Linked DNA regions of Homo sapiens. The protein of the gene in region 2 interacts with the protein of the main gene of each other region in a biochemical or structural test. Each region holds a gene or a part of one and is shown on either strand. Other genes may lie near its edges.

Region 1 (7,024 bases), on a different chromosome or scaffold from region 2:
CGCCTGATGTTATTTACAATTTCACGCACATCAAAGTTGGGGATTTTGCAGGACCACCCAGTACCGATTCCTTCAGCACCATTTATCAGCACCATGGGAATAATAGGAATGTACCATTCAGGCTCAACACGCTGGTTGTCATCATATAAAAACTTCAACGTGTGATCATCTTTTGGTGGAAATAACAATCGAGCCAAAGAGCTAAAGAAAAGAAACAAAGAATGTTATTTTACAAAAATACTGAATTTCACACTTAACTTTTATGGAAAGGACATGTATTATACATGAAAATTATCTTGGTTTTACTTGCTGACTAATATACATTTAACAATATTTATTGAGCACTTGCTATGTGTCACGCACATGGACATAAAGTCTCAATCCTCAAGGAGCTCACAGTCCAGTAGAAGTTTGCAATTAACACATATTTTGTTAGGTGGTGGGATAAACAAGAGAAGAAAAAGTGGGAAAGTGACTGAAGAGGTGCTAAGGAAAGTTAAGCCGTTTCTGATAGGAAAACATTTGAGCAGAGAAAAGACACTGAGGGCGCCAGGTGCAGTAACTCGCGCCTGTAATCCCAGCACTTTGGGAGGCTGAGGGAGGCAGATCACCTGAGGTCAGGAGTTCAAGACCAACCTGGCCAACATGGTGAAACCTCATCTCTACTAAAAATATAAAATTAGCTGAGCATGGTGGCGTGTACCTGTAATCCCAGCAACACGGGAGGCTGAGGCAGGAGAATCACTTGAACCCAGGAGGCAGAGGTTGCAATGAGCCGAAATTGCGCCACTGCACTCCAGCCTGGGCAAAAAGAGCAAAACTCCATCTCAAAAGAAAAAAAAACAACAAAAAACAAACTGAGGGACTGAACCATGTGGATATCTAGAGAAAGAGTGTTGCAGGCAAAGGAACCAGTAAGTAAAAGGCCCTGAAGAGGAAATGTGCTCGGTATATTTGAGTATAGGCCAAGGACAGTGTGGCTGGAGAGGAGATGGTATGAGAAGGAATCAAAAGACATGGAAGGTGGGGACACGGATCACATAATGTCTGGTTAGCTAAAATAGGTCTTTAGATTTTACTCTGAGCAGTTGAAGGTTCTGAATCAGAGTGACTTATTTTTTAAAAAATAATTGGCTGCTTTAAGAAAAGATGATATGTTACAATAGTTTAGATGAGATGGGGGTGGCTTAGTATTTTTCCAATGCAGATCCTATAGGATTGGCTGAGGAACTGGATGTTAAGTATCAAGCAAAGGAGTCAAGGGTGACAAGGTTTTTAGCCTGAGCAATTAGAAGGATGGCATGGCATTCCATTTACTGAGACAGGAAAACTAAGGATTTGGTTTTAGACTTATGTTTGAGATACTTAACTAGATATCCAAGTGGGAAATGTTAAGAGGGCAGTCAGACATAAAAGTTGGGAGTTCAGGGGAGAGACCAAGACTGGAGATTTAAAGGTATAGAACGGATGAATGGGAGATCATTTGGGAATTGAGTGTAGGCATTGGAAAGAGATCTGATGAAGGAGCCCTGGAATGGGCCAGTATTTAGAGGTTGGGAAGGTGAGAAGGACCCAGCAGAGAAAGCTAATAAGGTAGAAGAGAACCAGAAGAGTCTACAGTCATAGAGGCCAAATAAAGAGTTTCAAGAAGGATGGAGCAATTAGTAACTGTTTGAATGCCACTGAAAGGGTGACTGGGATGACAGCTGAAAATTGACCATTCATAATATACTTTCCATAGGCTTGTAAAGGAGTAAAATTTCAATTGTGATATTTAGGAAGAATCAAAGTCTCCTTTACTCAGTCCCAAGCTCTACATCAGGATTTCTCAACCTTAGCATAATTGACATGTTGCACTGGATAATTGTTATGGGGGGGCTTTCCTGTATAAGCCTCACCCCTGGCCTCTGCCACTAGATGCCAGTATCTTCTGATTAACTGAGTTTTTGTATTTTTGGTGAACTAAATCTCACATTGTTTCAAAACTGGAAATGGCAAGTCACTAGAAAGTGAAAGCATACCTACCTGAGCATTGTAAAGATGTATCGTGGACTAGCAGAATCCTTGCCACCATGTAGCCTGGTACCAAACTGACCAATGGGCTGCAAGAGGTTTAGATTATTGCTACCCACAAAATTCTGAGCCAAATTGATAATGGTCATCATTAGTGACATCTGTGGGGAAAAAAAGATTCATTAAGCTGAGGCTTTTACTAATACAAATACATTATGACTTAACCTCACTATAATCCTGTAACATTTTGTGAGGTCTAGTTGTTTAGTGACTTTCCTCAGATTAATAGATGGCAGAAATAGTACTTGAACCTACAACTTCTGGCTCCAAGTTTAGGGCTGCCGTCCAACAATTTCTATTAAATCCCACTCAACTTTGAAGGCATAGTTCTTCTCCTTATCCTCAGCAAAATGAAATATTTCCTCCTTTGTGTTACAATGCTGTGTTCATTTCTATTCTAGCATGTATCACTTTATTCTATAGCTGTGTGTGTATTGGCCCTCTGGCTAAATTGTTATTATATCTTGGGGATAAGGAACATATTTTTATTTATTTTTGTATACCTGGTACATGGTAGGCATTCAACAAATGTTCGTTGGGTGAAAATTTATTGTATCCCTACTATATTTTGATTGAAAGCAACAAGACAACCATTATATTTAAAATTCTAGAAACCTGTAGGCAATCTAGTTCTTTAAAACTGTTTTACATAATTAATGCAAAAAGTAATCACAAAACATTGGTGTAAAGTCAAACAATTCAGACACATATAAAAAGTGAAAGTTGCCCTTTCCAGTTCTCAGGGGTAACTAAAGTGAACAATTTGGAACATATCCTTGTAGACATTTTTAGTTATTGTTCTGTCTCTTTTTTTCCTCACCTGAGAATAGACCCTGGATATTCCTCAGTGTCAGTGCACACAGTTTTACTGAAGTTACAGCACTGATTCCATGCATACATGTGTCACAATTTATTATAACAATTTTCAAATCAGTGGAGGTCTAAATTTTGACATCACAAAGTTATAATAAACATACTAAGCATTTTTTAATGTAGACCTTTGCAGACTTATGAATATCCCTGCAGGAATATTACTTTCAGAAATCAAAGGGCAAGCAGTTTTATTCTTTCACAGGTTTTACCAACTTGTTCTTTACTATGAATATATGAGCTTATACTTTCACCAAATCTGTTTTGAGAATGACTCTGCAGGGATTTCTGATATAATGCTTTCTGGAAACATGGATTGTGTGTTTACCTCACCATGATGATAAGAAGACATTTCAGCCACTGATCCAGCTAATTGGGCAACCTTTACTTCTCGCTTGTCATTCCGTTTGAAGCAAGTAAACAAAACCTTTCTCTGACCTGGTTTCAAACCTTTAAAATGAAATAAGAGCAAACGTAAGTATCCTCAATTTAACCAATTTTGGAATTTGATTTCCATCTTACAATGAAAACAGACTAACAAATTGGAACTCACCATCCACCATAGAAGGGATAGATCTCTCGTTATCAGAATTTGAGAACAAGATAAGTTCCTTGTTGATGAAGTCATTATATGTCAGATATGTGGTAGTTTGTCCATACAAGTAATCCTGAAGGACCAAATAGTATTACATGAGTCTACCGGTCTAAACAATGCTCAACACAAAAATCAAACAGAAACCTTTCAGAACTAAGAATTATTTCTGTAATTCTTAAGTCTTTAAAAAATATTGAATAATACAGAAATATTTTATATGTTTTAAAGATAAAGCAAATTTAACTGCTGCACAACTCTATCATATCAAATTTTTTACTAAAATAACTATTCAGTAAGTTTAATTTGCTATAGTATCAATACCAAAAGGTCAGTCTAACAATCCATTTTGTGGCATATATTTAAAACTTTTACCTCAGGAAGCCCAAGTAACTTTCGTTGTCTTCTATCCTCCATGAAATTAGTTAACCATTCCTTTCGATCATCTATCTGTTTTTTGCTAAAGGCCTATAAATTAAAGGATGAAAAGATGTCACTGGTACTAATAGGCTAATAGGTTCCAAAATATCCTTCTACAAAGAACGAACAACAGAAAAACAAAAATACTGTTTTCCTTTTTTTTTTTTTTTGAGACGGGAGTTACTGTTCTCTTGCCCAGCCTGGAGTGCAATGGTGTCATCTTGGCTCACTGCAACCTCTGCGTCCTAGGTTCAAGCGATTCTCCTGCCTCAGCCTCCTGAGCCCCTGGGATTAAAGGCGCCCGCCACCACGCCCAGCTAATTTTTGTATTTTTTTTTTTTTGAAATGGAGTTTCACTCTTGTGGAATGTGATGGCACGATTTCGGCTCCCACAACCTCCACTTCCCAAGTTCAAGTGATTCTCCTGCCTCAGCCTCCCGTGTAGCTGGGATTACAGGCACGTGCCACCACACCCAGCTAATATTTTGTATTTTTAGTAGAGATGGGGTTTCACCATGTTGGTCAGGCTGGTCTTGAACTCCCGAGCTCAGGTGATCCACCCGCCTCGGCCTCCCAAAGTGCTATGATTACTGGTGTGAGCCACTGCGCCCGACCTTTTTTGTTTTTTTTTTTTTTTGAGACAGAGTCTCGCTCTGTCGCCCAGGCTGGAGTGCAGTGGCACCATCTCAGCTCACTGCAAGCTCCGCCTCCTGGGTTCACGCCATTCTCCTGCCTCAGCCTCCGGAGTAGCTGGGATTACAGGCGCGTGTCACCAAGCCCGGCTAATTTTTTATTTTTTATTTTTTTTTATTTTTAGTAGAGACGGGGTTTCACCGTGTTAGCCAGGATGGTCTCCATCTCATGACGTTGTGATCTGCCCGACTTAGCCTTCCAAAGTACTGGCATTACAGGCGTGAGCCACCACGCCTGGCCTTTTTCCTTTTTTTTTGAGATGGAGTCTCACTCTGTTGCCCAGGCTGGAGAGCAGTGGCCTGATCTCGGCTCACTGCAACCTCTGCCTCTCGGGTTCAAGCGATTCTCCTGCCTCAGCTTCCCAAGTAGCTGGGACTATAGCTGCGTGCCACCACGGCCGGCTAATTTTTTGTATTTTTAGCAGAGATGGGGTTTCACCTTGTTAGCCAGGATGGTCTTGATCTCCTGACCTTGTGATCTGCTCGCCTCTGCCTCCCAAAGTGCTGGGATTACAGGCGTGAGCCACTACGCTCGGCCAATTTTCGTATTTTTAGTAGAGAGGGGGTTTCACCATGTTGGACAGGTTGGTCTCCAACTCTTGATCTCAGGTGATCCACCTGCCTTGGCCTCCCAAAGTCCTAGAATTATAGGCATGAGCCACCAAGCCCAGCCAAAAATCAAAATTTTCTAAAATATCTGATTCCTTCTCTGGGATATGCTTACTGGAAACATTCTATTCTATAAAACATTCTTTTTTTTTTGATACGGAGTCTTATACAAAAATGTAAATGTTTCAACTGGCTAAAGTAGTGATTTCTAAAATTAGAATGTATATAAAATACAACTCAAACCTACCAGGCTGATAGCAGCATCATCTTCAGGACCAGAATATTTGAACTGGATACGATGTCTTTTCATATCTGCAAAGTATTCTTTAGCTTCCTTTGATGTGCTGGTGCCCAAACCTATAAAACCAAAAATACCAAGTTCCTTCATATAGTCTTGTACAGGGTGTATAATAAAATGAGAAGTTCTATATGGGTTTCATTACAAACCTTTGTAATATTTGACTTTCCATTTTTTATGATTTGGAGTAGAACTCTTCCACTCTTCAAATTCAGGAAGGCTGTAAAATGCCATTTCTTGCTTGTTTTTAGATACCTGTGATAAAAAACAATGACTGTGGCTTTGTACACTGTGGGGTCCCCTGTATACCACTACATGTGACGGGGCTTATATGTATATCCAGGTTTGAGGAGTAGGGTCTTAAAATATCCATGATGGTACTTAGAAATTAGCGTACCTTTACAATGGGAGTGATAAATTCCTCCAGAAAACGATGTCGCAGAAGAGAGGGCCAGTTGTGATGGATAAAATTAATCAGCAAGCCTTTGATGTGGGAACCATCTTGGTCCTAGAAAGATTTGAAAGCCAAAGTTCAAAAGAACTGTTAGGCTGGGCGTGGTAGCTAACATCTGTAATCCCAGAACTTTGGGAGGCCGAGGCAGGCGGATCGCCTGAGGTCAGGCGTTCGAGACCAGCCTGGCCAACATGGTGAAACCCTGTCTCCACTAAAAATACAAAAATTAGTTGGGTGTGGTGGCATCCGCCTGCAATCCCAGCTACTCGGGAGGCTGAGGCAGGAGAATCGCTTGAACCCATGAGGCGGAGGTTGCAGTGAGCCAAGATTGCACCATTGCACTCCAGCCTGGGCGACAAGGGCGAAACTCCATCTCAAACAAACAAAGAATTGTTTAGAAATAAAAAAATATTATGACTGACCTACTGGCAATTTGTCAAATTTTCTATGGGAATCAAAAAAGGTCTGTTCAAATCCAGACTCACTTAACCTGTATTTGCAACATACATATGATATAAGCATATCTGATTAGATGTTGATTAGAGATGATGAATAAAGCTCCTATTTAACTAATTTATTTTCATGGCAAAAAACAATGAAATTAAATTAAGACATGCTTAATTTAGTTGAACAATCTAAAAATTTAATAACAAATCTGACCTGATCTGTCATAATCATTATCTTCCCATAACGAAGCGTCTTCAATGAATCTTCATCTTCATAGTTTTTCTTGTACTGAAGACCCACAATCTTGATGATATTGTTAATCTCAGCATTTTCCATGATCTGAAATGGACATATACCAAAAAAAGCATCGTTTATAAATTTGAAAAGAACAAAGAAATTTAACAGTATATGTTGCTTGGATTTTCTTGAGCTCCAGTATTTTGAGCTATTAGCTTATAATTTACTACATCAGAAAGGTCTGTTAAAATAGGCTACAATGTACCTAATTTCTCAAAATAAGCACAAATTGTCTAAAATATATTTTAAAATGCCTAATGAGGGAATTAAAT
Region 2 (7,192 bases):
GCACTTTAGGAGACCAAGGCAGGAGGACAGCTTGAGCCCAGGAGTGTGAGACTATCCTGGGAAACATGGCGAAACCCTATCTCTACAAAAAATACAAAACAATTAGCCAGACGTGGTAATGCATGCCTGTGGTCCCAGATACTTGGGAGGCTGAGGCAACGGGATCACTTGAAACACGGAGGTCGAGGCTACAGTGAGCAAGGTTTGTGCCACTGCACTCCAGCCTGGGCAACAAAGTTTCAAAATATAAATAAAACAAAAATATTTTGGCCAGGCACAGTGGCTCATGCCTGTAATCCCAGCACTTTGGGAAGCCAAAGTAGGAGGACTTCTTGAGCCCAGGAGTTTGAGGCCAGCCTGTGCAACAGAGGGAGACCCCATCTCAATGTTTTCATAAAAGAAAAGAAAAAAAATTTTTTTTAAGTCTAACAAGGAGGAGGACTAGCGGTCTCAGCGAAGAGAGGAGGATAAAGCGCCAGAGAAAGGAAGGACAGAGAGAGAGAGAGACAGAGACAGACAGAGAGAGCCAGAGACAGAGACAGAGGAGAGAGACAGAGACTGCGAGATGCAGGGAGAGACAGAGAGAGAGCAACGTGCTCTGCTGTCTTTCAACTATGCCCTGAAATGGGAAAGAAAGATAACATCCAAAGGTGAGGCATACCCTGAGCATACCCCTGCCCAGCCCCCACCTCCTGCAGGGGCCACCCCAGGGGGCATCACAGTGATACATTTTCCAGCTGCCTCCTCTAAAAGCACAAGGCCCAGTGGAGAAAGGGGGTTTGCAACCTTGGAGCACACACCAGAGGCGTCACCCCTCAATGCTGACAGTGGAGCCCCCAACACTGTAGCCGGGGAGGTGGCCACATGGATGTTACTCTTCGACTTCTCTCTTTTTGCCCCTTAGGCCAAGGAGCCACAGCTCCATCCCTCAGAGCACCCATGTCCTTCCTGGGCTGCCAGAAGCATCTCCTGGAGCCTGACCCCATTTGCACAACACTGGCCGACCCTCCCAGGTAAAGGCACATGATGGCATCTCCTGCCCCAGTGGCCAAAAGCTCTCTTTTACGGGAGTCAAACAAGCGCAGACCTTGGCATTCGGCTGGTTCTGAAAGGCAGGACTTTGTGTCCTGAGGCTTCAATACAGATGCCCCGAAAGAACCACCTCTCAAAGCAATTGCCCCCAAACTTGAGCCCTGAGGACAGCATCTTAGCAAACACCAACCGAGAACAATGTGAGAGCATCCCACGAACCACCACCTCGTCCTTCCAGAAGGGTGCTCAGCCCAGCAGAACAGAACAGCATCTCTTCCTGGCTCCACCTTCCCCATGAAACTGTGCAGGCCCCAACCCCAAAGCCCTCCCTCTGCTCTTGGGAATTGCTAGGACACCTCAAATGAACGCAAATAAAATTAAAAGATTTTTTGAAGAAAAAGACGACCAATTGAACAGCTGGGTTCATGAACGAGAGGACTGAGGACTCTGCCACCTAAGCGACGCTGACCAGTTCTGCCTCCAGAGGGCTTCCTCCTTGAGACCCGAGAGTTCACAGTAAGGGGGACTCTTCCCCACCCTGATGGGCACCTGGAGCTAAGCCCCCAGGACCTCGGAGAGTGCCAGCTTCCCGCCCACCTCCAAAGTCCTTGCCACTCACAGCCCTGCCAGGCCTGGCCCAAGGTGAGCAGCACCAGCTCGGCGTTGTCGGGAACACTGGGGAAGTAATCTTCCGTCAGCTCCGTGCCATCCTCGTACAGGCACAGCCGGGAACCGCGCTCAGGGAGCTGCAGGGACGGGAGAAGCAACAGGAGGAGGAAGGGTCTCAAGACGAGGGCTTTGCATCTGCAGGCCTCACAAACGACCGGAATGAGCTGTGCTTAAAGAAGCAGGCTCAGGCTGCCGCCTGTATGCCACAGTCGCTCCAACGCCCAGGCAAGGATGAGGGAGCGGGAGCAAGGGCGCCTGACTGCGGGCCGTTCTAAAATACGAAGAGTCAGGAAAAACATACATCAGGGGGTGACTGCTGGCTCTGCAGGATTCACCCTTTTTAAATGAGCTCCTGAGGGCGCTTCAAATAGAGCCTGTCTTTGACAGCGCCGCCTCCCTGCTGCCAGGAGCTGAACACCACCATCCCCAGCACACAGCCGCCAGAGCGGTGCTGGCACACGAAGGAGAACGGTTGGTTGCCTCTGTGCACAAGTGTGACCGGCACGTGGCACTGTTAATTTGTTGGAGTCCGGTTCCCTGTTACTCTGCACTGGTCAGTTTTAGGCATTTTATGGCTACTCCCACCCCACCCGCACCGACCCCGGCAATGCACACCTGGTAACCCTAGTACTGGTCTAAAAAGAAAACCAACCTAGAATAAGGTGACGATTGCAATCCCCAGCTGCGAGGGCTGGAAGGGGCCTGCAGAGCCCACCTAGCCAAGCCTTTCATGTTACTCAAGGGGAAGCTGAGGCCGGACAGGCAGAGCAGCCGTGACCCCGCGTGCCAGTACCTGGCACTCTACCCGGGTCTCCTAGCTCTGATGCAGGGCTGTCCTGCCCGAGAGGTGGGAAGAGGGAAGGGGTGATCCAGGTCGTCCCCCAACCCCCCTGCGTTCTGAAGCCACGCTCAGGAACCCCAGGCTGCGGGGGCCCGGGGTCCTAGCGGCTGAGGCGAACGAAAACTACCCGCCCCGGGCGCCGCCTGCACCCTCCGTTTTGGAAGAGGAAAAGCGGCACCTCCTATTCTCCCCACACGCCTCCCCGACGGGCCGTCCCCGCCTAGCCCAGCGGGCACCTGGAAGCGGAGACAGCCCTTGCGCAGCACCTCCTGGCAGCTCCGGCCAGCCACGCCGAACTTCCTCGGGCTGCGCAGGGCCCGCAGCTTCACGCTCTTGGGCTTCTGGAGCATTGCAGATGTCCTCAAGCCCTCTGGGTCCCACAGGCGGTGGCACCTGCTGCCCAGCTGCTCAGATCCGTCCTCGCCCTGGCCGCAGGGGTCTGCACCTGGTGAGCTCTGCAAGCTGGCACAGGCCGGGTGCCGATCCCGGAAACTACATTACCCAGAAGGCCTGGGAAAAGTGAGGCCCGACGCGGTCTTGTGCGCAGGCGTCGCCCCACGGACACCACATTACCTTACTCAGAAGGCTCAGGAAAGCAAAGGCGCGACGCCACCTGGTGTGCCCAGGTGCCGTGGCCCCGGAAACTACACAACCCTGAGGGCCAGAGTAGCGGAGCCCTCCCCTTGTGCGCAGGCGCGGCCTGGGGTGGGGCGGGGTCGCGCACGCGCAGAGGCCCTGGCCCAGGGCTGGGCTTGGTTGTCATGAGAGTGGAGGCTGCGGCCGGGGCTATGGGCAGAGGTGGCCGGGTCTGCTTCTTCCCTGTCACTGCCGCAGCAGCTTGGGGTGCAAGGCGGCCTGGGGCGGCGGAAGGGGCGCCCCCCGAGTTCCGTCTGAGGAAGCGGCGGCTGCCGAGGAAGTCCACGAGAGCCGGGTCCCGCACGCCCCTGGGGTCCGGGTGCTGAGGCGCCGCCTGGCCGCCTCCCCGGGCCGCGGCACCGCTCCGACCCAGCCGCCCTCTCCACCGGGGCCGCGGCAGCGCCAGTCGGGGCCCTTCCCTCTAAGCAGGTACCTTCCGGGCCGCTGCGGCGCCGGCCCAGGGCCGGAGTGGGGAGCGGGGCGCGGGGCGCGGGGCGCGGGCGCCGCGGGGGCGCGGTCCCCACCTGGGAGCTGGGTACGAAGCCTGGGTGCGCGGTGCAAGCGCGGACGGTGTGGAGTTAGATGCCGGCCTTGCTGTCGCCGAAGAGCCGGCGCGGCCCCGTCGTGCCGTATGCCGGGGAGCTCAGCACGGGTGCTGGGACCGCCTGCCCCGGCCGGGACGGCCCATTTAGCGTGGAATATTGTTTTCAGATCCGGCTTTTCCTCTTCTGGATGCGTAGCACATAGGGGGCCAGTTTCAGATGTGTTCTGCTGAGCAAAAGTTTGAGGAAAATTGCTCTGTCCCTATAGAGATTAAAGTCTGATGGTTGGTTGTTTTTTGTTTTGGAGTTTGTTTTGTTTTGTTTGCACTTAAGTTCAGATTTCTCTGAAGCCCTTTCAGTCGCTAAGATGACTTGATCAGAAACCCATAAGCCTTTGAGACGGTCTCGCTCTGTCGCCCAGGCTGGAGTGCAATGGCACGATCTCAGCTCACTGCAGCCTCCGCCTCCCGGGTTCAAGCGATTCTCCTGCCTCAGCCTCCCGAGTAGCCCGACTAATTTTTTTATTTTTAGTAGAGACGGGGTTTCACCATGTTGGCCAGGCTGGTCTCGAACTCCTGACCTCAAGTAATACGCCCTCCTCGGCCTCCCGAAGTGCTGGGATTACAGGCATGAGCCACCGCGCGCAGTCACACTTAAAAGTCTTCTTAAAAAGAAAATCAGAGACAAGTTTTGTTTCCTAGTCTTGTAACAAAATGGAAGTTGCTACACTGAGTTTCCGTTTAATTTATAGTTAATTGCCTTTTACCATGCCAGCACTAGGAAAAGTGTAGTGAGGGATGAGACCGCCATGGAGTCATCGCTGCCTGGGGAGAGATGTACTCTGGCATTTGTCGGGATGTCGATGGCTGCCCCTGGGACAACAGGGATCCCTCATGCCTCTGGTGAGGAAGACCAGCCAATAACTGGATGTTCAACAGAGCTTTGCTTCTTCCCAAATTGTTAATGGTGATTTTTATAGAGCCTAAAAGTGGCATCCTTCAGTGACATTCCAAGTATCTTATGTAACACTTGAAGGTTTACACAGAGGGGACCCTAGGGTACAACTGGAAGGTCTTTGGGAGGGGGTAGACTAAAAAAGGAATCCTTTTCAAATACCAGACTGAGGTAATAGCATTGCCTCCACAGTCCCTGTGCATTTCTCTTAGCTGGTTCTTAAATGCCAGTACTTTGTTTTAGATTTGTTGGGGGCAGTATAGCATACTGGAAACACCCTTCTGTTTGACTGAAAAGGTCCTATATTTATGTCTTCGAGCCGTAACAGAGAGTGTTGGTTAGGTTCAGAGACTAGCCAGGCTCGGCGGCTCACGCCTGTAATCCCAACACTTTGGGACACTAAGGTGGGAGGAGTTCAAGACCAGCCTAGACAACACAGTGAAACCCCATCCCTACAAAAAAAAAAAAAAAAAGTAGCTGTGCATGGTGGCATGTGCCTGTAGTCCTAGCTGCTCAGGAGGCTGAGACAAGAGGATCATTTGAGCCCGAGAGTTCATGGTTACAGTGAGCTATGATCACGCCACTGCAGCAGTACAGCCTGGGCAACAGAGCGAGAACCTGTATTAAAAAAAAAAAAAAAAAAAAAATCGGGGCTGGGCTTATTGGCCACGCCTGTAATCCCAACACTTTGGGAGGCTGAGGCGGGTGGATCACCTAAGGTCAGGAGTTCGAGACCAGCCTGGCCAACATGGTGAAACCCCATCTCTACTAAAAATACAAAAATTAGCTGGGTGTGGTGGTGCGCACCTGTAATACTAGCTACTTGGGAGGCTGAGGCGGGAGAATCACTTGAACCCAGGAGGCAGAGGTCGCAGTGAGCCGCGATCACGCCACTGCACTCCAGCCTGGGTGACAGAGTGAGACCCTCTCTCAAAAAAAAAAAAAAAAAAATTTGGAGACTGGAACCCAACAGCCTGGGCACAAGAGGTATTTTCAAGGTGGAATAGGGAGTGACAAGCCCTGCCCTGAAAGATGATGAAAGGGGCCTGGCATGGTGGCTTATGCCTGTAATCCCAGCACTTTGGGAGGCCAAGGCGGGCAGATTGGCCAGGAGTTCGAGACCAGCCTGGCCAACATGGCAAAACCCCGTCTCTACTAAAATACCAAAAAAAAAAAAAAAAAAAAATTAGCCAGGCATGGTGGTGCATGCCTGTAATCCCAGCTACTTGAGAGGCTGAACCACAAGAATCACATGAACCAGGGAGACAGAGGTTACAATGAGCCCAGATCACGCCACTGCACTCCAGCCTGGGTGATAGATTGAGACTCTTGTCTCAAAAAAGGAAAAAAAGCTGATGAAAGGATTGGAGGGCTTCAGAGCTGAAGGGTATTAACTTTGAGCTTTGATTGTTTGGCTGGACTTCAGAATTCAGGACAAGAAGTGAGGGTCAGGGGAGAGTTGGCGCATTGATCCCTAGATGGGGAGCCCACCAAGAGCTCTGGAGTTAGGACATGGATGGAGATGACTGGAGCTGGGCCTGAGGCACGTTCACACAATAGGAACTTAGGACTTGTCTGAGGGAGGCGCTTCAGGTGGGGACACCAGGTGGTTGCTGTCTAGAAAAGACAGTGGGATCAGAAGGAAGGGCAGGCCTGATAAGACCTGGCACACTGTTGGATGGGGAGTGGGTGAAGAGAGATGCTGTGGCCAAGGGAAAAGTACCTCTAGGCTCAGAGCCCATGCGACCCAGAAGTGCCAGGTCACGAAGGAGTGGGAGCCATGGGCTGTGCGTTTCTGGCATAGGTTGCCCAGAGTGCAGGTGGGGCCGTGCAGCTAACAGTGGGTTAAATCACACTCATCCTTTCAAAATTCTTTTTTTGTTTGGTTTTTTAGAAACGGGGTCTCACTCTCTTACCCAGGCTGGTCTCGAACTCCTGGGCTCAAGTGATCCTTCCACCTCGGTCTCCCAAAGTGCTGAGATTATAGGCAGGAACCACCACACCCAGCCTCATCCTGTTCTGGGGGGCTTTTTAAAAATTATTTTCTGAGTTGGTTTAGTTTTGTTTTTGTTTAATATACAGTAACATCTTGCAGTGAACTTTGTGCAAAAAATAACTAGAATCTCGATGGTTTATCATTCTATTTTAGTGCTTTTGTTCATACATTCCAAGAAACATTAGCAATAATGCCAGCCAATAATTAATATATTGAAGTGGTCCTCTTCGAATTCTCAATGAAAGTAAAAGAAAGATCTAGATCATGCATCAAGCATGTCAAAATACGTACAGTTTTATGTGGGGGTATGTTTATATGTTACCTCCTATTGGGAATTTCAATTAATAGTATATCTTATCCCAGAGAACTTTCTGATGGAGTCTTCTTTATCCTGGTTTAGTGAGGAGCCTTTTTTTTTTTCCCCCGATGATTTAGACCTAACCCAAATTGGCTTACTTAGGAGGAATCTGACTGGCTTAGTAACTGAAAAGTAACCCAGAGTCCCTGAGCAAATTGGGCTCA

Evidence for each region. The genes of interacting proteins can lie anywhere in the genome.
Region 1: the proteins of DFFB (region 2) and TOP2A form a complex in vitro, tested with the Homo sapiens proteins (one study listed by BioGRID).

What each region holds. Positions count from the first base shown.
Region 1 is NC_000017.11:40,400,881-40,407,904, forward strand, and holds part of TOP2A (DNA topoisomerase 2-alpha), read right to left. Parts: intron 6,795-7,024; coding exon 6,669-6,794; intron 6,063-6,668; coding exon 5,952-6,062; intron 5,810-5,951; coding exon 5,704-5,809; intron 5,614-5,703; coding exon 5,504-5,613; intron 4,004-5,503; coding exon 3,911-4,003; intron 3,612-3,910; coding exon 3,497-3,611; intron 3,394-3,496; coding exon 3,272-3,393; intron 2,175-3,271; coding exon 2,026-2,174; intron 202-2,025; coding exon 1-201. UniProt on the Homo sapiens protein: Key decatenating enzyme that alters DNA topology by binding to two double-stranded DNA molecules, generating a double-stranded break in one of the strands, passing the intact strand through the broken strand, and religating the broken strand.
Region 2 is NC_000001.11:3,853,304-3,860,495, reverse strand, and holds the start of DFFB (DNA fragmentation factor subunit beta), read right to left. Parts: upstream 3,021-7,192; 5' UTR 2,893-3,020; coding exon 2,779-2,892; intron 1,779-2,778; coding exon 1,652-1,778; coding exon of another isoform or gene 1,630-1,651; intron 77-1,629; exon of another isoform or gene 1-76. Other genes in the region: CEP104 (centrosomal protein of 104 kDa), read left to right, coding at 4,529-4,622. UniProt on the Homo sapiens protein: Nuclease that induces DNA fragmentation and chromatin condensation during apoptosis. Degrades naked DNA and induces apoptotic morphology.